5 separate regions of the Homo sapiens genome follow, and regions 1, 2, 3 and 4 are each linked to region 5. The links come from fine-mapping of genetic effects on gene expression. A gene starts in region 5. Each other region holds a variant in brackets. All regions are shown on one strand. Distances are between the middles of the regions.

Region 1 (5,098 bases), 22 kb before region 5:
ACCAAAAACAAAACTCAAAAACCTTCAATATGAAGGCAGCAGCTGGGGGAGGGGCATTTACAAGGGAAAAAAATGATTGAGTTTGGTGGTGACAGCAGCAAGTTGGGACTACAAACCCCAATGATTTTGTCACTGGGCCCTGACACCCCTTCTTGCCCCCTGGGACAGCCCCCCCACTCTGGAGCTGGCAAGGGAGTCACACTCTCTTTGGTCTGCGGGAACGCACCCATCAAGGTGAGGGGGGCACCTGGGGAGGCTGGGAGATGTTGGGCACTTCCTTTTCCTCTGGTCACACCCAGTCCTGAGGGAAAGGCGCCCTCACCCTTGGTCTGGAGTTCCCCGAGGTGGCTGGGGGGTGATTTTCCCCTCCTATTATGGCAGAACCCCCAAATCCTGTCTCTCCAAATTGCCAACTCCTCACCCCACGGGCTCAAAGTGCAATCCAGCGGGGCACAGGGCTGGGGGCCTCTGTGAGTCCCCACTCTGCCCCGGAAAATGGGGAGGCGGTGTCCCTGGGGTGGGGAGTTCCTGCAGGTCAGTACTGCGGGGCCGGTCCTCCTGTCCCACCCGGGGTTCCCGGCTTGGCCTGGGACTTCATGTGCTGGACACTGGCCAAGATTTTCTTCTGGTGTCCCGCCAGAGTGACTCCGATTCGGAGCAGGTCCCTGCAGAAGGAAAGGAGAGCTTGGTGAGACCCTAGGTTCCCTGTGGCCGCTCTCCTCTCTTGGCTCCTGAGACGGTCCTAGCCTCAGGATTGTAAGCCAATCAGAAAAGCCAGCGGGGGAGGGAGAACAGATGTCAACAGTTCCCGGGCAGTTTTTTTAAGAGCTGGGCAGCCATCCTTCTGTGCAACCGCAGAAGGGGGTAGGGCTGGAGGCCAGAGGCAGGGCCTTTGGCTTGGGTGCCAGGGAAGGAAAGAAAAGAGAGAAAAGCCCGCAAAATGAGACTGGGGGAAGAGGCTGCACAGATTGCCGTAGAGGGAAATGGAGTGTGAGAAAGAAAAGGCCGAAGTGGGAGAGGAAGAGCTGGGTGGAGAGGAAGAGGAGGTTGCTGATGGCTGGAGGCTGAGATAAGGGGAAAAAAGGGAGAGGAGGCCCCCTGGGTCAGAGAGAGGCTGGGAAGAATTAGGGAGGGATGTGCCCAGGCCCCGTGGGGCAGGGGCAGACTGGCCTGAGACCCTCTGGCTCTAGCCTCCTGAGTAGCTGGGACCACAGGCACGCACCACCATGCCCAGCTAATTTTTTTGTTTTTGTTTTGTAGAGATGGGGTTTTGCTATTTTGGCCAGGCTGCTCTCAAACTCCTGGGCTCAAGCAATCGGTCCACCTGAGCCTCCCAAAGTGCTGAGATTACAGGCGTGAGCCACCACCTGGCCTTCACATTTCTTTTTTTTTTTTTTTTTTTTTTTTGAGATGGAATTTCACTCTGTCATCCAGGCTGGAGTGCAGTGGTGCGATCTCGGCTCACTGCAACCTCCACCTCCCGGGTTCAAGCGATTCTCCTGCCTCAGCCTCCTCAGTAGCTGGTATTACAGGCACGCACCACCATGCCCAGCTAATTTTTGTATTTTTAGTAGACATAAGGTTTCACCAAGTTGTCCACAATGGTCTCGAACTCCTAACCTCAAGTGATCTGCCCACCTCGGCCTCCCAAAGTGCTGGCATTACAGGCATGAGCCACCATGCCCGGCCTTCAGATTTCTATTCCTTCTATTTCTGTTATTCAACCTGGGGTGAGAGGAGATCTTGGGAGAGGAACGGGAAGGCAGAAAGGGGGAGTAGCAGACAAAGGCCAAGTGGGGATACGCAGCCTTTGGGAGGCAAGGAATCATAAAACCATTTCACATAAAAGCTGAAGAGGATCTCCAAAACCTAGCCCAATCTTCTCCTTTTATGGTTGGAAAAAGAGAACCCGAGTTGACACATTGTTACCGTGAGAGCCGGGCCTGGAATGCAGATAGATGCACAAAGATAGCTAGAAGTGAGAGGCGGAAGCG[C/T]GATGGCCCAGGGCTGTGATGGCAGGAGGAGGTGAGGCGGGCAGGCTGGCCCCAAAGAGTCCTTGGGTCCTCAGCTCCATGGGGCTGTGACTGCTCCTCTGGGGCCCTTCTAGGCATGGCATGAGCGCAGTGCAAGAAGACAGCATTGGCACCCGAAGCTGACCCCAAAAGCCCCTGGAGACCCCGTGGGCCTGACTCCAGCTGCCCCGCTCTCCCAGCCCCACTCCAGCTCCTGCCACTGCTTACTCAGCAGAGATCTGGCTGACCAGCTCGAAGGAGCCAAAGCCAGCGGCTGCGAAACTTTCTTCGTATCTTCCCATTTTGATGGCCCGAAGCCACTCGCCCACAGAGCCAAAAGCTGAGTAGTGAGGCTGCCGCTGGTCCAGGAGAGGGTGTGAGGCCCTAGGGGGCAAGGATGGGGAGGAATGCTGAGTACCAGGCCCAGGTCCGGGGGAGGAGGTGGAACCCAGCCTTGCAGAGGCGGACAGAGGCCCTCCCACCCAACACCAATGAACGGACACTTCTGGGCAAGGAGTGGGGGCAGAGAGCGGGAAGGAGGGCCCATTCTCTGCAGTCCTCACCCGCCATTCTCCCGGGCCACGATTTTGAGGCTGGCGGGGTTCCGGATCATCTTGTCCAGGGCGCTGACCACCTGGGGGAAGCGGGGCCGGGCATTCCGGTCTTTCTGCCAACAGTCCAGCATGAGCTGGTGGAGGGAGGTGGGACAGTCTGGGGGCGGGGGCAGCCGGTAGTCCTGTTCAATGGCATTGATCACCTGGAAAGAGGGGAAGAAGCTCTGGGTGAGGCTGTCCAGGAAAAGCAAAGATGCTAACAGGCCCAGGAAATGGTGACTTGGAAGATGGTAGGATAGGAGCCACAGCCCCCCAAAAAATAACAGATCCAGGAATCCTCCTAGCCGGAGTTGAAGCTCTCTGTGGCTGAAGGCCCCAGCAGCTCTTGGGCTATGATACAGACATGTTACCTCTCAACCCTGCCCTCCATCTCTGCATCCTTCTGCGACCCAAATATGCTGTACCCAACTCTTTTATTTATTTATTAAGACAGAGTCTCGCTCAGTTGCCCAGGCTGGAAAGCAATGGCGTGATCTCAGCTCACTGCAACCTCTGTTCCTGGGTTCAAGCGATTATCCTGTCTCAGCCTCCTGAGTAGCTGGGATTACAGGCACCCGCCCATCATGCTGGGCTAATTTTTTGTATTTTTTTAGAGACGGGGTTTCACCATGTTGGCCAGGCTGGTCTTGAACTCCTAACCTTAGGTGATCTGCCCACCTTGGCCTCCCAAAGTGCTGGGATTACAGGCTTGAGCCACTAGGCCTGGCCCTGTATCTCAACTCTTTGATACAAAGATCAATTCTCCTTTTTGTCATCTCCATGGTCTCAAGAACCCAGCAGTGATGACTCTCTGGGAACCCACCCTTCACCCCAAATCCCAGGTGAGAGAACACTCGAGGAAAGCTTGGTAGGACCACGGGACACTTACGTCCTGATTGCTCATGTCCCAGTACGGCCTCTCCCCAAATGACATCACCTCCCACATCACAATCCCGTAACTCCAGGCATCACTGGCGGAAGTGAACTTCCGGAAGGCAATGGCCTCCGGGGCAGTCCATCGGATGGGAATCTTTCCTCCCTGCAGAAAAAGGAGAAAAGGTGAGCTGGGGGACTCACTGAGGGACTCACCAGACCCAGCACACTGCCCCCCAGTCCCCCACCTGCCTCTGCTTTTTCCCCCTAGCTCAGGCCCCAAGCCTCCTACTCTCCAACTCTGTTTGCCCAGGTTGGAGTGCAGTGGTGCGATCTTGGCTCACTGAAACTCCGCCTCCCGGGTTCAACTGGTTCTCCTACCTCAGCCTCCTGAGTAGCTCGGATTACAGGCGTGTACCACCACCCTCAGCTAATTTTGTATTTTTAGTAGCGACAGGGTTTTCCCATGTTGGCCAGGCTGGTCTCGAACTCCTGACCTCAGGCGATCCTCCTGCCTCAGCCTCCCAAAGTGCTGGATTTACAGGCGTGAGCCACCACACCTGGCCACTGTTCTTTTGAGACAGGGTCTTGCTCTGTCGCCCAGTCTGCAGTACAGTGGCACATTCATAGCTCACTGCAGCCTCCAACTCCTGGGCTTAAGCAATCCTCCTGCCTCAACCTCCCAAGTAGCTGGGACTACAGGTGCATGCCACTGCGCCTGGCTAATCTTTTAATTTTTTTGTAGAGATGGGGTCTTGCTATGTTGCCCAGGTTATCCAACTGTTATTTTCCTAGACATCTGGAAGTCGGCTTCCTGGAGCTGACTGTCCCCCCACCCACAGCCTGCTCCTGTATCCTCTCCCTGGAGCAGGGCTGCCAAACCCTCAGCCTCCCACCTTTCCAACCTGCCCTGCCCACCTGGCCCTAAGAAGCTCACACCCAGTATTACCCCCAGCATTACCAGGGAGCTCGTGTAGGTGGGATCGGAAGAGTTCTCCTCCAGGAATCGGGAAAGGCCAAAGTCAGACACTTTGCAGACGAGGTTGCTGTTGACTAGGATGTTGCGAGCAGCCAGGTCTCGGTGGACGTAGCTCATCTCGGCAAGGTACCGCATGCCCGAGGCGATGCCCCGCAGCATGCCCACGAGCTGGATGACTGTGAACTGTCCGTCGTTTAGCTGGAGAGCAGATAGGGTGGGGGCTTGGTGAGGACAGCCCACCCACCGTTCCCCCTCCCATCCACATCTTTTTTTTTTAGAGACAGGGTCTTGTTCTGTCGCCCAGGCTGGAGTGCAGTGGTGCCATCATAGCTCACTGCAGCCTCAACCTCCTGGGCTCAGGCAAGCCTCCTGAGTAGCTGGAACAATAGGCATGTGCCATTATGCCTGGATAATTTTTTAATTTTTAGTAGAGATAGGTTCCCACTATGTTGCCCAGGCTGGTCTTTAACTCCTGGCCTGAAGCGATCCTTCCGCCTGGGTCTCCCAAAGCACTGGGATTACAGATGTTGAGTCACCGTACCCAGCCTCCCGTCCACTTCCTAAACTGCATCTGTCACTTCCAGACCCACCTCACAACTCACCTGTAGGGCAAGCCCCCCAACTCCCTCAGGTGAGCCTTC
Region 2 (5,100 bases), 78 kb before region 5:
GGGAGGCGGAGGTTGCAGTGAGCCGAGATCGCGCCACTGCACTCCGGCCTGGTGACAGAGCAAGACTCCCTCTCAAATAAAAAAGAAAGTTGTGCTGGCCTGGCACAGTGGCTTATGCTTGTAATCCTAGCACGTTGGGAGGGTGAGGCTGGTGGATCACCTGAGGTCAGGAGTTCGAGACCAGCCTGGCCAACATAGAGAAACCTTGTCTCTACTAAAAATACAAAAATTAGCCAGGTGTGGTGGCACACGCCTGTAATCTCAGCTACTCAAGAGGCTGAGGCAGGAGAATCGCTTGAACCTGGGAGACAGAAGTTGCAGTGAGCCAAGATAGTGCCACTGCACTCCAGCCTGGGCAACAGAGCAATACTCCATCTCAAAAAAAAATAATGAATAAATAAAATAAAAAAGAAGATTGTGCTTTCATTTGGTGGTAATCGTCCCCAGCTATGCCCTCTGCTCCTCATCCTCCTAGGTATAGTTCAAAGTCGTTTCCCAGTCCCCTTAAGCTCACTTCTCCTTCCAATTCCTTTCACTGCAGGGAGTATCCGGAAACACACTCTCTTCTCAGGACAACCTGGGCCCAACTGGCAGGCTGTTTCTGTCAATTACACAGCCGTGGGACGGATACAGGTACAGAGAAGCAAGGGGTCAGGTCCTTGCACATGGTAGGCACACCCAATGTTGAAATAAATTGAGGGGCCTGGTGCTGTGGCTCATGCCTGTATTCCCAATACTTTGGGAGGCTGAGGAGGGAGGATCGCTTCAGGACAGGAGTTCAAGACCAGCCTGGGCAACATAGAAAGACCCCATCTCTACAAAAAAATACAAAAATTAGGCGGGCACAGTGATGTGTGCCTGTAGTCCCAGCTACTAGGGAGCCTGAGGTGGGAGGATCACTTGAGCCCTGGAGGTCAAGGCTGCAGTGAGCTATGATCACACCACTGTACTCCAGCCTGGGCAATAGAGCAAGACTCTGAAAAAAAAAAAAAAAGAAAGAAAGAACTGAATTGAGGGTCTGGGCACAGGGAGTAGGGATTCTGGGTCCTGGAATGGAGTCGAGTTAGATCAGGGGCTTGGGGGTGTGGGCTGTGTGCTCACTCCTGCTCCATCTCCCTTTCTCTCCAGTTTGCCGTGGTAGGCGTTTTTGGAAAGACCCCAGAGCCAGCTGTGGCAGTTGATGCAACCAGCATTGCTCCTTGTGGGGGTGAGAGCAGGCCCTGAGAGGCCCGGATCTCTCAGAATCCGGGGTGGGCTGGGGGAGGGCTGGAGAGCGTCACTCAACTTGCTCAAATATCCTATTTTGATCCCCCAGAGGGTTTTCCTCAGTGTGACTTTGAAGACAACGCCCATCCCTTCTGTGACTGGGTCCAGACTTCCGGGGATGGTGGACACTGGGCCCTCGGACATAAAAATGGACCCGTCCATGGCATGGGCCCTGCGGGAGGTTTCCCTAATGCAGGTGAGGAGATTGAGGAGCGCTCACGCCAAGAAATCACTCAGTCTGCTCCCAGGTAGCAGGCTGGCTGCTGTGACTGATGGGAGACGTTGTTTCAGGCAGTGGGAAGATCAGTCCACAGGTGTTTTTTCGGAAGTTTCCATGGTACTGGAATTGTGGAGATAGCAGAGTAACTTAAAGATTCTCAGGGCTGGGGGGTCACTGAAATCCTGAGAAAACCCAGGCATCTCACTTCATGGAGCCCAAAGCTTCAAAACCCACCACCTCATTTTCAGTCTAGACGTTTATGAGTGGCTCATGCCTGCAATTCCAGCACTTTGAGAGGCCGAGACGGGAAGATTGCTTGAGCCCAGGAGTCTGAGCTCAGCCTGGGCAACATAGTGAGAACCCCATCTCTAGAAAAAAAAATTTTTTTTTAATTAGCTAGATGTGGTGGTGTGTGCTTGTGGTCCCACCTACTTGCGAGGCTGATGTGGGAGGATCGCTTCAGCTCAGAAGTCAAGGCTGCAGTGAGCTATGATTGAACCAGTGCACTCCAGCCTGGGCAACAGAGCAAGACCTTGTCTCTAAAAATTAAAAATAAAAAAATAGGCCAGGCATGGTGGCTCACGCCTTTAATTCCAGCACTTTGGGAGGCCGAGGCAGGTGGATCACTTGAGGTCAGGAGTTCGAGACCAGCTGGGCAACATAGTGAAACCCTGACTCCACTAAAAAAAATGTAAAAATTAGCCGGGAGTGGTGGCGTGCACCTGTAGTCCCAGCTACTCAGGAGGCTGAGGCAGGAGAACTGCCTGACCCCAGGAGGTGGAGACTGCAGTGAGCTGAGATCGCACCACTGCACTCCATCCGGGGCAACAGAGTAAGATTCTGTCTTAAAAATATATAAAAAGAGGCTGGGCGCAGTGGCTCACACCTGTAATCCCAGCACTTTGGGAGGCCAAGGAGGGCGGATCACAAGGTCAGGAGATCGAGACCATCCTGGCTAACACGGTGAAACCCCGTCCCTACTAAAAACACAAAAAATTAGCCAGGCATGGTGGTGGGCGCCTGTAGTCCCAGCTACTCGGGAGGCTGAGGCAGGAGAATGGCGTGAGCCCGGGAGGCAGAGCTTGCAGTGAGCCGAGATCACGCCATTGTACTCCAGCCTGGGTGACAGAGTGAGACTCCGTCTCAAAAAAAAAAAAATATATATATATATATATATATATACACACACACACATATATATACACACATATATATATACACACACACA[C/T]ATATATATATATAAAGAAATAATTTTTTAAAAAGACAATAATGAGGGTGGGGTGCAGTGGCTCACACCTGTAATCCCAATGCTTTGGGAGGCTGAGACGGGTGGATCACTTGAGGCCGAAAGTTCAAGACTAGCCTGGCCAACATGGTGAAACCCCACCTCTACTAAAAACACAAAAATTAGCCAGACATGGTGGTACACACCTGTAATCCCAGCTACTTGGGAGGCTGAGGCAGGACAATCGCTTGAACCTGGGAGGTGGAGGTTGTAGTGAGCTGAGATCGTGTCACTGCACTCCAGCCTGGGCAACAGAGCGAGACTCCATCTCAAAAAAACAACACACACACACACACACACACACACACACACACACACACGACATTAATGAATGTAATCTAGGTTGCTGGTTTGTTATTCCCTTTTTTTCTTTTTTGAGATGGAGTCTTGCTCTGTTGCCAGGCTGGAGTGCAGTGACGTGATCTTGGCTCACTGCAACCTCCACCTCCGGAGTTCAAGCAATTCTCCTGCCTCAGACTCCCGAGTAGCTGGGACTCCAGGCACGGGCCACCACGCCCAGCTAATTTTTGTATTTTTAGTGGAGACGGGGTTTCACCATGTTGGCCAGGATGGCCTTGATCTCTTGACCTCGTGATCCGCCAGCCTCGGCCTCCCAAAGTGCTGGGATTACAGGCATGAGCCACCGTGCCTGGCCGCTTTTCCCTTTCTTTGTGATCCCACCTTCTTTAGTTAGATGTCTAAAATGAGCAGAAAAAATAATGCTACGACCTGGGAAATTTGAGTGTTTGCTCAGATTCCCGTTCAGAAAGCAAAGCTTTGCTAAAGCAGCAGTTGGCATGTCCTGTGCAGGCTTCTTACCTTGCCTGTTCCCTTCCTTTGCCTAGGGGGTCACTATATCTACCTTGAGGCTGACGAGTTCTCCCAGGCAGGCCAGTCAGTCAGACTGGTGAGCCGGCCCTTCTGCGCCCCAGGTGACATCTGCGTGGAGTTCGCATACCACATGTATGGCCTTGGGGAGGGTACTATGCTCGAACTCCTCCTGGGAAGTCCTGCGGGGAGTCCCCCGATTCCTCTCTGGAAACGCGTGGGGTCTCAGCGCCCTTACTGGCAGAACACCTCCGTCACCGTCCCCTCAGGACACCAACAGCCCATGCAGGTGAGAGACGGAGGCGGGGGTCCTGTCTGTGTGAGGTGAGAGGGCCAATGCCTGGGATCTGGGGGCGCCACCAGTGCTGAAGAGGTGGAAAGCTGGAAAGAGAGCCGAGAAAAGGGGAACTTCGTGTTACAGAAAGTGAGAAAGGGGCCGGGATGGGGCTGGACTGTTGAGGCTGGAACAAGGCGACATTTTGGCAGAGAACAGATTCTATGCCCAGTGGAATCACAGAGTTGCTGGAGATTCATTTTTGTTTCTCTCTCCGTCTCTCTCCCTTGTCGCCTTTAGCTTATTTTCAAGGGCATCCAGGGAAGCAACACGGCCTCTGTGGTTGCTATGGGTTTCATCTTGATCAATCCTGGGACTTGTCCAGGTAAGACCAAAGCCCAGGCTCCAGGAAGGGGGCGGTGCCCTGAGGTTCCCTGGAGTTCTCTCTATGAACTGCTTAAAATGTGAGTCCTCCCTGGAGCCCGAATTCTCACCCAGCTGGCTTTGTTTTCCATCTTCAACACACCTCTCCTTCCCCTGCACTTCAAGATGTTTGCCTGGGTGAATGTGGCTTCGATACCATGGATTTTGGGGGCTGGATCCAGAACTCCTTCCTCTGCAGTCTTGAAGGCTGGACCCATATCCTATTCATTTCTGGCATAATATCTGACATATATTAGTGTTCGTTGAGTGGATGAAGGTTGGGGTTTGGGAGTAGAAAGAGAGGTGTGAATAAGCCACCCATGGGAGCCCACTCCAGTTAGATGGCAGTAAAGAGGGTGGTGGTATGGTTTTGACTAAACTCCAGGGATTCTTATTTTTCTTTGCAGTAAAAGTGCTACCAGAGCTTCCTCCCGTATCTCCAGTTTCTTCCACTGGCCCTTCTGAAACCACTGGCCTCACAGAAAACCCTACAATCTCCACCAAGAAACCTACAGTTTCCATAGAAAAACCCAGTGTCACCACAGAAAAGCCCACAGTCCCCAAAGAAAAGCCCACCATTCCCACAGAAAAACCCACCATCTCCACAGAAAAACCCACCATTCCTTCAGAAAAACCCAACATGCCCTCAGAAAAACCCACCATTCCCTCAGAAAAACCCACCATCCTCACAGAAAAACCCACCATTCCCTCAGAAAAACCCACCATTCCCTCAGAAAAACCCACCATTTCCACAGAAAAACCCACCGTCCCCACAGAAGAGCCCACCACCCCCACTGAGGAGAC
Region 3 (5,090 bases), 23 kb after region 5:
CCGATGCCCCCGGCCGAATAAACCCCTTCCTTCTTTAACTCAGTGTCTGAGGAGTTTTGTCTGCGGCTCGTCCTGCTACATTAATGGAAATACAATGTTGGCCAGGCTGGTCCTAAACGCCTGACCTCAAGTGATCCACCCGCCTTGGCCTCCCCAAATGGTGGGAGTACAGGCGTGAGCCACCGCGCCCAGCCGGGAGATGCTGTTAATATTGAAGTCAAGGCATCAGGCATACAGCAGGACTGTAGTTGGTGAGTCAGGCCATCATATTTACAGATGTGGCCTTTGGCTTTTGCTTTGAGGAGAAAGGCATGTCATTGGAGAATTATGAAAGGTGGCACCCATCGGGAATGGATGTTTACCTAAACAGCACCCCTCTAGCTGCTCAGCTGAGAATAGATTTTGGGACAAGTGCAGAAGTGGGAAAACCAGTTAGGAGGCTATTGTGAAAGCGGAAGAGGTGATGGTGGCTTGGACTTGGGTGGTAAAATGTGGTTGCAGACTGGTTATAACTTGAAAGTGGAGGCCAAAGGAATTGTCTATGGTGTGGATGTTGGATGTGAGAGTATTCCGGTGTAACCCCAGGTTTCCGGCCTGAGAGGACCACAGGAGGAGCAGGTGGTGGGAGTTTGAGTATTTAGTTTTGGACATACCAAGCTTGAGTTGCCCATTTGATGTCCAAGCAGAGATGGTAGTAGAGCCGGGTGCCATGGCTCACGCCTGTAATCCTAACACTGTGGGAGGCCAAGGTGGGCGGATCACGTGAGGTCAGGAGTTCAAGACCAGCCTGGCCAACATGGCGAAACCCCATCACTACTAAAAATACAAAAATGAGCCAGGCATGGTGGCACGTGCCTGTAATCCCAGCTACTTGAGAGGCGGAGGCAGGAGAATCGCTTGAACCCGGGAGGTGGAAGTTGCAGTGAGCAGAGCTCTCACCACTGCACTGCAGCCTGGGCGACAGAGTGACTCCATCTCAAAAAAAAAAAAAAAAAAAAAAAAATAGAAAAAGATGGTAGTAGATTGTTGGCTATACAGCCTGAAGTTCAGAGTAGAGGTCTGGGCTAGAGGTACACCCTTGGAGGCACTATCATATAGATGGTATTAAAACAGATTGGGCCGGGTGCGGTGGCTCATGTCTGTAATCCCAGCATTTTGGGAGGCTGAGGTGGGAAGATTACTTGAGCCCAACAGTTCAAGACCAGCCTGGGCAACATAGTGAGAACCTGTCTCTACAAAATATAAAAAATTAGCCAGGCATGGGTGCATGTGCCTATAGCTACTCAGGAGGCTGAGGCAGGAGGATTGCTTGAGCCTGGGAGATAGAGGTTGCTGTGAGCTATGATGGTGCCACTGTACTCCAGCCTAGGCGACAGAGTGAGACCAAGTCTCAAAAATAAATAAATAAATAAATAAATAAATAATAAATAAATACAGAAAAAATAGAACTATGAGACTGGATGAGATCGTGAAGGGACTGGGTATAAATGTTGAAAAGAGGTTGGGCGCAGTGGTTCACGCCTGTAATTCCAGCACTTTGGGAGGCCAAGGCGGGCGGATCACGAGGTCAGGAGATCGAGACCATTCTGGCTAACACGGTGAAACCCCGTCTCCACTAAAAATACAAAAAATTAGCCGTGCGTGGTGGCGGGAGCCTGTAGTCCCAGCTACTTGGGAGGCTGAGGCAGGAGAATCGCTTCAACCTGGGAGGCAGAGCTTGCAGTGAGCCGAGATCGTGCCACTGCACTCCAGCCTGGGTGACAGAGCTAGACTCCATCTCAAAAAAAAGGAAAGAAAGAAAGAAAAGAAAGAAAGAAAGAAAGAAAGAAAGAGCTAGGATAGACAACTAATATAAGGAGAGTTTTTTTGTTTGGTTAGTTTTTTGTTTTTTTTTTTTTGAGATGGACTCTTGCTCTGTCGCCTAGGTGGGAGTGCCTGAACCTCCCGAGTAGCTGGAATTACAGGCGTGTACCACCAGGCCCAGCTAATTTTTGTATTTTTAGTAGAGATGGGGTTTCACCATGATGGCCAGGCTGGTCTTGAACTCCTGACCTCAAGTGATCCTCCTGCTTCGGCCTCCCAAAGTGCTGGGATTACAGGTGTGAGCCACCGTGCCCAGCCTTCACTTCCCTTCTTACCTAGCTTAAATGTCTTTTTTAAGTGGGGTCTTGCTCTGTCAACCAGGTTGGAGTGCAGTGGTGCGATCACAGCTCACTGCACCCTCAACCTCCCAGATTCACTCTAAACTGGGCTAGGCAGGCCTGGCAAGGCAGTGGGATGTGGAGGGAGTGGAACACAACATTGAGACCCAGTCAAGAAGAGGACCCAGGGCGGGTGCGGTGGCTCACACCTGTAATCCCAGCACTTTGGGAGGCTGAGGTGGGTGGATCAACTGAGGGCAGCAGTTTGAGACCAGCCTGGAGAACATGGTGAAACCCTGTCTCTGCTAAAAATACAAAAACTAGCCAGGCATGGTGGCAGACACCTGTCATCCCAGCTACTCCAAGGCTGAGGCAGGAGAATCAGTTGAACCTGGGATGCGGAGGGTGCAGTGAGCTGAGATCGCGCCACTGCCCTACAGCCTTGGGCAACAGACGGAGACTCTGTCTAAAAAAAAAAAAAGAGGACCCAGAGAAGACTAAAATTTAGTCAAGGAGAAAGTCTCTGTCAGGCCTGAGCCCAACAGTTCTCTACCTCACTGGATCCCGAGTTCATCCATCCTACCCTCTTTCTACTGTGCCCCTTCTCTCTCTCCCCAACATCTTCCCTTCCCTTTTTTTTTTTTGAGTCAGAGTCTCGCTCTGTCACCCAGGCTGGAGTACAATGGTGTGATCTTGGCTCACTGCAACCTCTGCATCCCAGGTTCAAGTGATTCTCCCACGTCAGCCTCCCGAGTGGCTGGGACTACGGTTGCCTGCCACCACGCCCGGCTAATTTTTGTATTTTTAGTAGAGACAGGGTTTCCCCATTTTGGCCAGGCTGGTCTTGAACTCCTGACCTTAAGTGATCTGCCTGCCTTGGCCTCCCAAAGTGCTGGGATTACAGGCGTGAGCCACAATGCCCAGCCTCCTTCTTTTCCCTCCCTCCCTTCTTTCCTTCCCTCCCTCCCTCCCTTCTTTCCTTCCTTCATTCCTTCCTTCCTTTTCTTT[CTTTCTTTTT/C]TTTTTTTTTTATTGAGATAAGGTCTTGCTCTATCACCCAGATGGGTGTGCAGCCATAGGATCATAGCTCACCACAGCCTCCATCCTCCCACCTCAGCCTCCTGAGTAGCTGGGACTACAGGTATGGGCCACCATGCCCAGCTGATTTTAAAAAAAAATTAGAGACAGTGTCTTCTGTGTTGCCCAGGCTGGTCTTGAACTCCTGGCCTCAAATGACCCTTCTGCCTCAGCCTCCCAAAGTACTGGGATTACAGGTGCAAGCTACTACACCTTGCCACAGTCTTTTTTGTTGTTTGAGACAGGGTCTCACTCTGTCACCCAGGCTGGAGTGCACTGGCACTATCATAGCTCACTCAACCTCCTTGGCTCATGGGATCTTCCAGTTTCAGCCTCCTGAGTAGCTGAGACAACAGGCGTGCACCACCATGCCTGGTTAATTTTCTTTTCTTCTTCTTCTTCTTTTTTTTTTTTTTGAGATGGAGTTTTGCTCTTGTTGCCCAGGCTGGAGTGTAATGGCGAGATCTCAGCTCACCACAACCTCCGCCTCCCGTGTTCAAGCTATTCTCCTGCCTCAGCCTCCCAAGTAGCTGGGATTACAGGTGCGTGCCACCACGCCCAACTAATTTTTGTATTTTTAGTAGAGATGGGGTATCACCATGTTGGCCAGGATGGTCACAATCTCCTGACCTCGTGATCCACCCACCTCGGCCTCCCAAAGTGCTGGGATTACAGGCGTGAGCCACCGTGCCTGGCCCAATTTTTAAAAAAAATTTTGTAGAGATGAGGTCCCACTTTATTGCCCAGGCTGGTCTGGAGCTCTTGGGCTCAAGTGATCCTCCTGCCTCAGCCTTCCAAAGTCCTGAGATTACAGGCGTGACCCACTGCACCCAGCTCCTTGCCACCTTCTTGGTGCCAATCAAAATAGTCCTGAATAAAGTCTGACTTACTGTTTTAACAAGAGTCAGATTTTTTTCTTTAATAAGCGCAGTAGAAGAGGTGAACTGAAGAGGAGGGGCTGCAGTCATTGATGAAGACAAGGTCCAAGGCAAAACCACAGACTAACAAGGTAAGGTGGAGGTTGAGATTTATGGAAGCAGAGTTCAGTGACGGACAGGCCAGGGTATGCCAAGGGAGTGCTTATAACTAACTGACCCTGAAAAAGTTTTTTTTTTTTTTTTGAGACAGAGTCTCGTTCTGTTGCCCTGGCTGGAGTGCAGTGGTGCGATCTCAGCTCACTGCAACCTCTGCCTCCCAGGTTCAAGCGATCCTCCTGCCTCAGCCTCCTAAGTAGCTGGGACTGCAGGCGCATGCTTGAGTTCAGGAGTTCCAGAGAGGCCTGGGCAACATGGCGAAACCCGGTCTCTACAAAATATTTAAAAATTAGCCAGGCGTGGTGTGTGCCTGTGTAGTTCCAGGCACTGCGGAGGCTGAGGCAGGAGGATGCTTGAGCCGGAAATGCAGAGGTTGTAGTGACACGAGATCGCGCCACTGCACTCCAGCCTGTGTAATAGTTCCTGGATCAAAAAAAAAAAAAAAAAAAAAAGGAAATGTATCTGAAACTTTCCAAGCTCCAATTTCCTAATCTGAAAAATTGAAATAGCGGTACCTACCTCACAGAGTGGCTAATTTAATGCAGTGCTATTTGCAAGGGATAATTTATCAAACCTTTAGGCGTTGTTCTAAAGTGCCCATTAAATGCTCACTGAACTCACAGCCTTAGGAGGGAGGTTCGAGTTTATGCCCATTTTACATATGAGGACGCGTTGGCAGGTGGTACTGCTGTTCATGGGATCTGTAAAGAGTGAAGAAGGAGTCTCAGCTCTCAGTAGAGTTCATAGGCTCTAGGATTTCTGCTGGAAGTGAGAACACTGCAGGGAGGCAAGAAAGCGGGCATCAGACGGTGCAAAGCGACCCTGGGCCCAGATCGGCGGC
Region 4 (5,100 bases), 130 kb before region 5:
TGTGTTGCTCAGGCTGGAGTGCAGTGGTGCAACCTCCGCTCCTCCGGGTTCAAGCGTCTTGTATTTTTAGTAGAGATGGGTTTTGCCATGTTGGTCAGGCTGATCTCAAACTCCTGACCTCAGGTGATCTGCCTGCCTCAGCCTTCCAAAGTGCTGAGATTACAGGCGTGAACCACCGTTCCTGGCCCTTTTTCTTTCTTTCTTTTCTTTGAAACGGAGTCTCCCTCTGATGCCCAGGCTGTAGTGCAGTGGCACGATCTTGGCTCACTGCAAGCTCCGCCTCCCGGGTTCATGCCATTCTTCTGCCTCAGCCTCCCGAGTAGCTGGGACTACAGGCACCCACCACCACGCCTGGCCAATTTTTTGTATTTCTAGTAGAGACGGGGTTTCACCGTGTTAGCCAGGATGGTCTCGATCCCCTGACCTCGTGATCCACCTGCCTTGGCCTCTTAAAGTGCTGGAATTACAGGCATGAGCCACCACGCCCGCCCCGCCCCCACTTTTTTTTTTTTAATGGCAGATTCCTCTTCAGTGTTTTCCTTTGATGAAATGTAAGGAGAGGGCTGGATGCGGTGGCTCACGCCTGTAATCCCAGCACTTTGGGAGACCGAGGCAGGTGGATCATGAGCTCAGGAGTTCAAGACCAGCCTGGCCAACATGGTGAAACCCCCGTCTCTACTAAAAATACAAAAATTAGCCTGCGTGGTGGCAGGCGCCTGTAATCCCAGCTACTCGGGAGGCTGAGGCAGGAGAATCACTTGAACCTTGGAGGTGGAGGTTGCAGTGAGCTGAGATTGGGCCACTGCACTCCAGCCTGAGAGACAGGGCGAGACCCCGTCTCAAAAAAAAAAGAAATGCATGCAAGGAGATAAGGACTGTCTTGTTGTCAGATCAGTTTATTGTCAAATCGGTTTATTACAGAGCTTGTCTTCATCCACCTAAATTGCGAGCCTTGATATTTATGTGGATATCAGAGTTTGCAAAACATATTTTAGGTACCATGGAAAGACACATGACCTGAGTAATGGAGTGATAGCTCATAAACTGTGCTTATTGTTAATTATCAGACATAATGGGCGTTAAAATTAATTTACTGCATTCAGAATTACTTTTGGCCCTGCGCTAAGTTCTTTGCTCAACCAAACGTAACTGCGTTGTAAGTCACCAATGACTTCCACATTGTGAAATCTACTGGTCCATTATCTTACATGACCTGTTACCAGCCAGTGACATAGACGGTCACTCCCTCCAGAAATACCATCTTCACCTGGCTTTCTGGATGCTATATTCTGTTGGTTTTCCTCCCACCTCACTAGCTGCTATTTCTCAGATTTTACTGGTTCCTCCTCTTCTCCCCATCCTCCCAGGGCTCAGACCTCCGTATTGGAACAGGATATGGGTCGGGCACAGTGGCTCACATCTGTAATCCCAGCACTTTGGGAAAGGCTGAGGCGGGAGGATCGCTTGAGCCCAGGAGTTCAAGAGCAGCCTGCACAACATGACAAAACCCCATCTCTACAAAAAATACAAAAATTATCCGGGCGTGGCAGTGCACACATGTAGTCCCAGCTACTCAGGAGGCTGAGGTGGGAGGATTGCTTAAGCCAGGGAGGCGGAGGTTGCAGTAAGTGGAGATCAAGCCACTGCACTCCAGCCTGGGTGGCAGAGCCAGACCCTGTCTCAAAAAAAAGGGAACAGGATATAGGACCTACTGCTAAACATTCCTGTCTCTGCCTAATCATTACTTCCTCTTGGAAAACCTTGGATCCCTCAAGATGATATTGGCTGTCTCTCCTTGGGGATCCACCCAATCCTATTCATGTCCCCTCAGCACAGGTCATGCGATCATGCTCACCTTGTCTTGCACACTACAATATGAGCAGTTCAGCACAGTATTATGTAATATAACTGGTATGTTCGCAGCCTAACAGGTCACCTTGATCCATCCCTTATAGCTGTGTAATATTCCATGGGATGGATGTGCCATAGATTGTTTACCATGCACTGATCAAAAGTTATCCGGAGGTCGGTGGCTCATACCTGCAATCCCAGCGCTTTGGGAGGGTGAGGCAGGAGGATTGCTTAAGTACAGGAGGTCAAGACCAGCCTGGGCAACATAGGGAGACCCCCATCTCTACATAATAAATTAATATGAAAAGAAAGCCATCTGGGTTGCTTCCCGTTGGGCTATTACAAATAAAAATGCTATGGACGGGCTGGGCACGGTGGCTCACGCCTGTAATTCTAGCACTTTGGGAGGCTGAGGCAGGTGGATCACAGGTCAGAAGTTCAAGACCAGCCTGGCCAAGATAGTGAAACCCCGTCTCTACTAAAAATACAAAAAAATGTAGCTGAGCGTGGTGGCATGCATGTGTAATCCCAGCTACTCGGGAGGCTGAGGCAGGAGAATTGCTTAAATCTGGGAGGCAGCAGTTGCAGTGAGCTGAGATTGCACCAGTGCACTCCAGCCTGAGTGACAGATTAAGACTCCATCTCAAAAAAAAAAAAA[G/GA]AAAAAAAAAATGCTATGGATGTTCATGTACAGATTTTTAAATGCCAAGAAATGTTCTTGCTGGGTCATTTGGTAAGTGTACGTTTAATTTTAGAAGGAACTGCCAAACTGTTTTCTAGGATGGCTGTACGATTTTCCACTTCCACAAGCAGTGTATGTATGAGAGATCCAGTTTCCCTGCATTCTCATCCACACTTGGTATTGTTCGTATTTTGTATTTCAGCCATTTCAATACGTGTTATTGGTAGCTCGTCATGGTTTTCATGTGTATTTCCTTAATGGCTAGTGATATTGAACATCTTATGATGTGCTTATTTACCATTCTTATACTCTCTTTCACTGAAATGTCCGTTTAAGATTTGCCCATTTTCTTTTTCTTTTCTTTTTTTTTTTTTTTTGAGACAGTCTTGCTCTGTCGCCCAGGCTGGAGTACAATAGTGTGATCCTGGCTCACTGCAACCTCTGCCTTCCAAGTTTAAGCGATTTTCAAGTCTCAGCTTCCCGAGTAGATGGGATTAACAGGCGCCCGCCACCACGCCCAGCTAATTTTTGTATTTTTAGTGGAGACGGGGTTTCACCGTGTTGGCCAGGCTGGTCTCAAACTCCCAACTTCAGGTGATCCACCCACCTCAGCTTCCCAAAGTGCTGGGATTACAGGCAAGAGCCACCGCTTGCTTGCTTGCTTGCTTCCTTCCTTCCCTCCCTCCTTCCTTCCTTTTTTCTGTTTTTTCTTTCTCTCTTTCTCTCCTCTCTTCCTTCCTTCCTTCCCTTTTTCTTCCTTTCCTTCCTCTCTCTTTCTTTCTCAGACCCTCACTTTGTCACCCAGGCTGGAGTGCAGTGGTATGATCACAGTTCATTGCAGTGCTGTCCTCCTGGGCTCAAGCAATCCTCCTACCCCAGCCTCCTGAGTAGCTAGGACTGTAGGCACAGACCACCAGGCCTGGCTAATTTTTAAATTTTTTGTAGAGACAGGATCTCACCATGTTGCCCAGGCTGGATTTGCCCATTTTCTAATTGGGTTGTTCGGTTTCTACCTCTCGAGCTTAGAGAGTGCTTTATATATGCTGGAAACAAGTCCTTTGTTGGATATATGATTTGCAAATATTTTCTTCCAGTCTGTGGCTACTCTTTTCATCTTATTAATGTGATCTTTCACACAGCAAATGTTTAAACATTTTGATGAAGTCCAATTTATCATTTTTTTTTTTTGAGACGGAGTTTTACTCTTGGTGCCCAAGCTGGAGTGCAATGGCGCAATCTCAGCTCACTGCAACCTCCGCCTCCCGGATTCAAGCGATTCTCCTGCCTCAGCCTCCTGAGTAGCTGGGATAACAGGCGCATGCCACCACGCCCGGCTAATTTTTTGTATTTTTAGTAGAGACGGGGTTTCACCATGTTGGCCAGGCTGGTCTTGAACTCCTAACCTCAGGTGATCCACCCACCTCAGCTTCCCAAAGTGCTGGGATTACAGGCATAAGCCACCGTGCCCAGCCCAATTGTTTTTCTTTTATGGATTGTGCTTTTGGAGTCATGTCTAAGAACTCTTCGCCTTTAGCTGGGCATGGTGGCATGTGCCTGTAATCCCAGCTACTCAGGAGGCTAAGGCAGGAGAATCTCTTAAACCCGGGAGGCAGAGGTTGAAGTGAGCCGAGATCGCGCCACTGCACTCCAGCTTGGGCGACAGAGTGAGACTCCATCTCAAAAAAACAAACAAACAAAAAAACAAAACTCTTCACCTGACCCTACACCATGAAGTTTTTTCCTAAATCTACTATCCATTTTGTATTAACTTTTTGCATAGGGCTGAGGCTCATTTCTTTGCCTATTTGTCCAATTGTTTCACCACCACTTGAAAGGATCATCCTTTCCCCATTGAAACGCTTTTATACCTTTGTCAAAAACAAGTTGTTTGGCAGTGGCTCACGCCTGTAATCTCAGCACTTTGAGGGAGCTGAGGCAGGAGGATTGCTTGAGTCTAGGAGTTCGAGATCAGCCTGGTCAACGTAGTAAGACCTCGTCTCTACAAAAAATAAAACAAAATTAGCCGGGTATGGTGGCGCGTGCTGATAGTCCCAACTACTTGGGAGGCTGAGGCGGGAAGATGACTTGAGCCCATGAGGTTGAGGCTGCAGTGAGCCAAGATTGTGCCACTGCACTCCAAGCCTGGGTGACAAAGTGAGACACTGTCTTATAAACAAACAAAAAATTATTTTTTAAAGAGAGATAGTTGGCTGCACTTGTGTGAATCTATTTCTGAGCTCTCAATTCCATCTTATTGATTTTTGTGTCTATCCCACTGGGGAAACCATACTTTCTTGATAACTTTATTTATATAGTAAGTCTTAAAATCAGGTAGTGTGATTCCAACAACTTTTTCAAAGTGGTTTTAACTATTCTACTTCTTTTGCCTTTCCATATAAAGTTTAGAATAAACATCTATATTTAATACAAAAAAACTGCTGGGATTTTTGTAGGAATTGCATTACGCCTATAGATCAATTTGGGTTTTTGTTGTTGTTGTTTGAGACGGAGTTCGCTCTGTTGCCTAGGCTGGAATGCAGTGGTGTGATCTTAGCTCACTGCAACCTCTG
Region 5 (5,098 bases):
GGGTTAAAATGAGAGCTGCGCCCTGGTCCTGACCCCCACGAGCAGAGGCTGCTGGTGTGGGAGGGGAACCTCTTGTCTCAGCCTCCACGTTTCCTCCCCTAAGTCCCAGAATCAGCCTCTCTACCCCACAATTTCATTCCCTGTCCAAGACCCCTCTCTGCTTTCAGACCAAACACCCCGTCCTTCCCTCCTTGAAGGGAGCGCTCCGTGCCTGGGGCATAGCCCTGGCCCCCATCCCAGTACCTCCCTCCCCACGAGTGCCCTGATCAGGAAGCACTGGAGGTCGGGATGCTAGGGTTCCCAGGCTCCCGCCGAGGCCTCACATCTGGATTTGGTTATGGGAAGGCAGAGGGGAGGAGATTCTGGGGGGCGGTATGAATGGGAGGGGTGAACACACCTGGCTTGGCTCGGATCATCGGGGGAGGGGACAGGCACTGGAGGAAGGGGGGGGATTAGGAAAAACTGCACAGCCCCTGGCAGTGGAGAGTGGAGGAGGGAGGGTACAGGAATCCCCTCGGGGGCCGGCAATGTGGGGGGCATTGGGCGCTGGGAAGGGTGGAGAGGGGAGCCAGAACACCTGGCTCCCACCCCATGGGAGCTGCAGGAGAGAAGAGAAAGAGGGTGGGTGAGGCAGCCTCTTCCTGGGGACCAAATGATGTCCTCCAGCTAGGGGTCAGATGGGAAGCCAGCCAGCCTGAGGTGAGAGGCGCAAGGTCCCCATGGGTGGCAAGAGACAGCCCTGCTCACTGGGGACAGGATGCCCGGGTTCTGGGAAGGGGGTGGATAGAGGCTGCCGTCTCCACCCTCCATTGTTCCAGCCGGGATAGTGTTTTCCTGTCTCCAATTTACACACTGTCTCTGCCTCGGGCTGTCCGCAGCCCAGAGCAAGCGCAGGCTCCCTTTCTGCGTCCCAGCTCAGCTGCAGCCACGCTTTGATCTGTCAGTTCGCATGTCTCTCACCTATCTCTCCTCCACTCTCTGTCCACCTCCGTTTCTCTTTCTGACAGTCACTATCTCTCCTTCGCTTTCGGCCTCCACTTCTCGCTGTTCCTCGCGGCACAGGGCCTTGGATAAACTACTTAACCTTAACTAAGCCCCAGCCTCCTCATCTGAAAAATGGGGGCAATAATAGCACCACCCTTAGCGTTGCTGGATGGGTGAAATTAATATTTGTAAGGCGCTCAGCACAGGCCTGGTGCTTGGAAACACTCAGGTAATAGGTGTCACAATCACCATTTCCTCTTTGCGTCTTTCCTTCTCACCACACCTCGTCCTCGTGGTTTTTCCACCCCTTTGGCCTTCCTCTTCCCCTCGTTCATGGTTTTTGTTCCCCCTTCTCCGTTCTCTGAGCTGGGCAAGCCTCCCCTCACTCCCAACCCCACACCTAGCCTTTGATCCCCAGCCCAGGGCAGTCCTGCCCAGCCAGGGGGAGAGGGTTTTTCTAACGCCGCTGAATCCTTCCCTTTGGGAGTCCCTCATAGCCTACCGCCCCATAACCACTTTCATACCAGACAGAGAAAGGGGGGTGTTGGCAGCTCACTGAAAGGACATTAGGGACACAGGAGAGTTTCTAGGGCTCTTGGCTCCCCCTTTAGGGGACCAGGAGGGACAGCGATCCATGGCCAAAGAAATGCTTGGAGAGACCAGGAGGTGGGAGATAGACTGGGTTAGTTAGGGCGATGTGGGGGCTGTGTAGGTCAGTTTCTACCTGGGGGCTGTGTAGGTCAGTTTCTACCCGCTCCTAGGTCTCAAGGGAAGCCCGGGACTCACCTGGGGCCGGGGTCTAGACCGCATTTAAAGGGATGGGGTGCAGCCTGTAGAAACCAAGGAGCCACCCTATACCAGGGGCAGGAGCAGTGGGCGGGAGAGCGGTTTGGGGGTTTGCTGTGTGAATGCAAAGGAGGCCATCCTGTTGCAGGAGTGTGGAACTGGAGGATCAAGGTGTGATCGCTAAGGAATTGGCGCTGGGGGTCGTTTTAGGGCCTAGCACGAAAAGTTGTGCCTTGTCTGCTGTTGCTTCTCCAGAAACCTTCCCTCATGTACGGCGGGAGGTGGGACTGGGACAGAAACTTTGCAGATAGTTTTGAATAGTGGGGTAGGGAGGAAAGGAAAGGCAGCCAGGGGCGTATGTAATCAGCAGTGAGAGTTCGGGGAGCCCGGGCAGGGGAATGTCCCGGGTCGTAGCCAGACTCCATCTCTTTCCCAAACAAAAGAAAACTCCACTACCCGTCGGGCGCCTCTTCCCCGCCCCCCTCCCGTTCCAGCACTATCGGTCCGAAGTGTTTGGGACTGCAGTGCCCGGGTAGGGGTAGTCAGAGGCCGGCCCCTCCACTCCGAGGCCCAGATGTTGGGGGGGAGGTCCCAGGAGTGACGGGGTGCGCCCCCCCCCGCAAGGAAACTCACCTTCCAAAGCTGCGGCCAACGAAGCCCAGCAGAGCAGCACCCGGAGCTCCATGGCGCCGCCTCACTCGGGTAGGATCCGAACTGAGTTTGGGGGGCCCTCGCCCCCCCAGGTCTGACTCTCCCTGGGCGGGTGGACGCCGATACTCCGCGCGGGACTCCTCGTCGGGGCCCTCAGCGCGGGCCCATGCGAGCGTGCGGGGCACCGGGCGGCGGCGCCAAGTGTGGCCCCGCGTCTGTGCCGCGCGCGCGGGCGGCGGGCCCGGAGCGTGCTGGCAGTGGCCGCGCCGGGCGGGCGCGCAGCAAGACGTGGCTGGAGTTGGGGTCCCTCCGGGGCCTCGGGGTCCCGCCCCGGGTGGCGGGGGCTGAGCCGGCCGCTCGCGGTCTCCCCCCCTCCCTGGAGTGGCTCTGCTCGCGCCGCCGGGCCGAGTGCTCTCCTCGCGGGCGGGGATGGTGGGAGCCCGAGCGGGGACGGAGCGGGAGGGAGGGAGACTGCGGCGCGGAGCCGGGCGGGCCGGGCCGGGCAGGGGCTGAGCTGCGCTGGAACTGGGCCGGGCGGCGCCGGGCCCGGGAGGGAGGGGCGCGCGGGGGGCGGGGGCAGCTCTCCCAACGCGGGGGCTCCGCGAGTGAGCCCCGGGCGCGCTGATTGGAGCTCACGCTACTGAATAATTCATGAGGGAAGCGGAGAGGGGCACCGAGTGGAGCAGGTCGGGAAGTTGAGAGAAAGTTTGGAGAAGGGGGAGGGGCGGCGGGTGAGGAACCCCGGGACCGCCCAGATGTGCGCCGTGGCGGTGCGCGCTGTCCAGGACCGAGCATGTCGGGGCTGGGGCCCAGGGACCCCCGGGACAGGCCCGAACCCGGCTGGCACCAGGGAGCAGAGAAAACACACACCCAGCAGCAACACGGAGGGCCGCCCAGGCGTGCACGTAAATGTTCACCGCGCACACAAAGCCCGCTCTGACCTTGCTGCGGACTCTAGATGCCGCTCTTGGATGCGCCCACCACCCTCTAGTGGGCGCAGGGACTGCGTTTTGGGGGAAAAGGAAGGAAAAGGGAGTAGAAGCTTTGGAGAATTGACGGCCGCCCAGGGGGCCTCAAGGAGCAATCCCAGTTTGGATAGCCTTGCAGCGAACGTTCACACAGTCACCCCATAAACATTCAGTGTTGGGGACCTACTGTGCGCGCAACCAAGCCCTGAAAAATGTCCAGAGGAGGCGCGCACTAAGCTGCGCTAGGGAGTAGAGAAAAATCGAGGAAACAACGGTAAAGAAAAGGTGGGTGTGGCGGGCGCGGTGGCTCACGCCTGTAGTCCCAGCATTTTGGGAGGCAGAGGCAGGCGGATCATTTGAGGTCAGGAGTTCAAGACCAGCCTGGCCAACATGATGAAACCCCGTCTCTACTAAAAATACAAAAATTAGCTGGGCATGGTGGCGCGCGCCTGTAATCCTAGCTACTCGGGAGGCTGAGGCAGGAGAATTGCTTGAACCGGGACCTAGGAGGCGGAGGTTGCAGTGAGCTGGGAGCTGAGATCGCGCCACTGCACTCCAGCCTGGGCTACAGAGTGAGACGAAATCTCAAAAAAAAAAAAAAAAAAAAAAAAGGTGGGTGTGTCCGAGAGGGTGAGGGGTCCGGCTAGATCTCCAAATCGCCCTTCTCACTCTCACTCTCGTGTTTTGGGGGGGCTTCCCCGCCGCCCGCAGCCATGACCCCTGAGGCTGGGGCTGCGGCTGCGGCTGCTGTCTTTCCTGAGCTGTTTCCTGTCTGGCTCCTGGGGGCCCTCGGGATGGCTGGGAGGGGCCCTTCCTCTCACTGCCAACTCCCCTCACCCTCCCATCAGTTAGCGGGGAGGGTCCAGCACAGCCGTGCTCCTCCCACCAACCCCCTTCTACTTCAGGGAACTTAACAGTATGGGTTACTGGATAGATGGATTGGAGGGGGTGCTGCTCCAGGAGTCAGCCCCTCCAAGGGGCAGAAGGAAAGGACTTAGACTCCCACAGTAATTAGCGGGGACAGATTTTTTTTTTTTTTTTGAGACAGAGTCTCCCTCTATTTCCCAGGCTGGAGTGCAGTGGCGTGATCTGGGCTCACTGCAACCTCCGCCTCCCAGGTTCAAGCGATTCTCCTGCCTCAGCCTCCCGAGTAGCTGGGATTACAGGCACAGGGCACCAACCCCGGCTAGTTTTCGTATTTTTAGTAGAGACAGGGTTTCGCCATGTTGGCCAGGCTGGTCTCGAACTCCTGACCTAAAGTGATCCACCCACCTTGGCCTCCCAAAGTGCTGGGATTACAGACGTTAGCCACCGCGCCCAGCCGGAGGACAGAATCTTGAGGAGCCCAGCAAGAGAGACGTTGGAGCCCAGCAAGAGAGACGTTGGAGTCCAGGATGCTTGGGGGGCTGCCAAGCGCCCTTACGTCCCAGAAAGGACAGCCGGGCCTGTGATAACCTCTTGTCCCGGCTTACTTATCTTCCTGCTGCAAGAGGTGTTCCCCACACCCCTGCCCTTCCTTGCTGTTCTGCCTGGGTCCTGCGCCCGGGTTGGGGGGGGTGGGCCGGTCACCGAGGGCAGGAAACAGCCGGCTTCACTGGAGCCAGGCAGACCAGGCTGGAGCTGGGAATTCCCTCCTCCCTCCCCGATGCAGGCCCAGTCTCCCCTTCTCTTATTCAGCTTCTCCCTCGGGGTTCTCTGCAACCCTCTCC

Alleles and levels. Positions count from the first base shown, and alleles are read on the strand shown. Sizes are in standard deviations (SD) of each study's normalised expression. Not every link is listed here.
For the expression in monocytes after interferon gamma of the gene that starts at base 2,948 in region 5, G is the high allele of the variant in region 4 and GA is the other (moderate effect, 0.56 SD a copy in Fairfax 2014).

Evidence for each region. PIP is the estimated chance that this variant, and not a neighbour inherited with it, causes the effect.
Region 1: its variant is fine-mapped to the expression of EPHB4 in blood mononuclear cells (TOPMed, PIP 0.99).
Region 2: its variant is fine-mapped to the expression of EPHB4 in whole blood (INTERVAL, PIP 0.96).
Region 3: its variant is fine-mapped to the expression of EPHB4 in whole blood (INTERVAL, PIP above 0.99).
Region 4: its variant is fine-mapped to the expression of EPHB4 in monocytes after interferon gamma (Fairfax 2014, PIP 0.95).

Annotation. Positions count from the first base shown.
Region 1 is chr7:100,802,926-100,808,023 of GRCh38, forward strand. It overlaps EPHB4 (EPH receptor B4), which reads right to left. Exons shown (of 17, transcript NM_004444.5): 13 at 4,440-4,655; 14 at 3,495-3,644; 15 at 2,576-2,769; 16 at 2,241-2,396; 17 at 1-665. The coding sequence ends at 536. Among named protein-coding and RNA genes, the nearest start is that of EPHB4, 22 kb to the right of the region's middle. RefSeq lists enhancers at 1,802-2,517, 2,518-3,233, 3,154-4,353. The variant C/T (reference allele first, on the strand shown) is at 1,995.
Region 2 is chr7:100,747,009-100,752,108 of GRCh38, forward strand. It overlaps ZAN (zonadhesin), which reads left to right. Exons shown (of 48, transcript NM_003386.3): 9 at 542-633; 10 at 1,129-1,207; 11 at 1,316-1,462; 12 at 3,617-3,888; 13 at 4,174-4,258; 14 at 4,704-5,100. Among named protein-coding and RNA genes, the nearest start is that of ZAN, 16 kb to the left of the region's middle. The variant C/T (reference allele first, on the strand shown) is at 2,715.
Region 3 is chr7:100,847,106-100,852,195 of GRCh38, forward strand. All of the region lies in intron 1 of SLC12A9-AS1 (SLC12A9 antisense RNA 1), which reads right to left. It also overlaps a transcript of SLC12A9 not described here. Among named protein-coding and RNA genes, the nearest start is that of SLC12A9-AS1, 3.0 kb to the right of the region's middle. RefSeq lists an enhancer at 4,825-5,024. The variant CTTTCTTTTT/C (reference allele first, on the strand shown) is at 3,150.
Region 4 is chr7:100,698,032-100,703,131 of GRCh38, forward strand. No RefSeq gene overlaps it. Among named protein-coding and RNA genes, the nearest start is that of POP7, 5.5 kb to the right of the region's middle. The variant G/GA (reference allele first, on the strand shown) is at 2,510.
Region 5 is chr7:100,824,576-100,829,673 of GRCh38, forward strand. EPHB4 (EPH receptor B4) reads right to left here and starts at 2,948. Exons shown (of 17, transcript NM_004444.5): 1 at 2,404-2,948. The coding sequence starts at 2,455. It also overlaps a transcript of SLC12A9 not described here. RefSeq lists enhancers at 2,952-3,747, 4,544-5,098.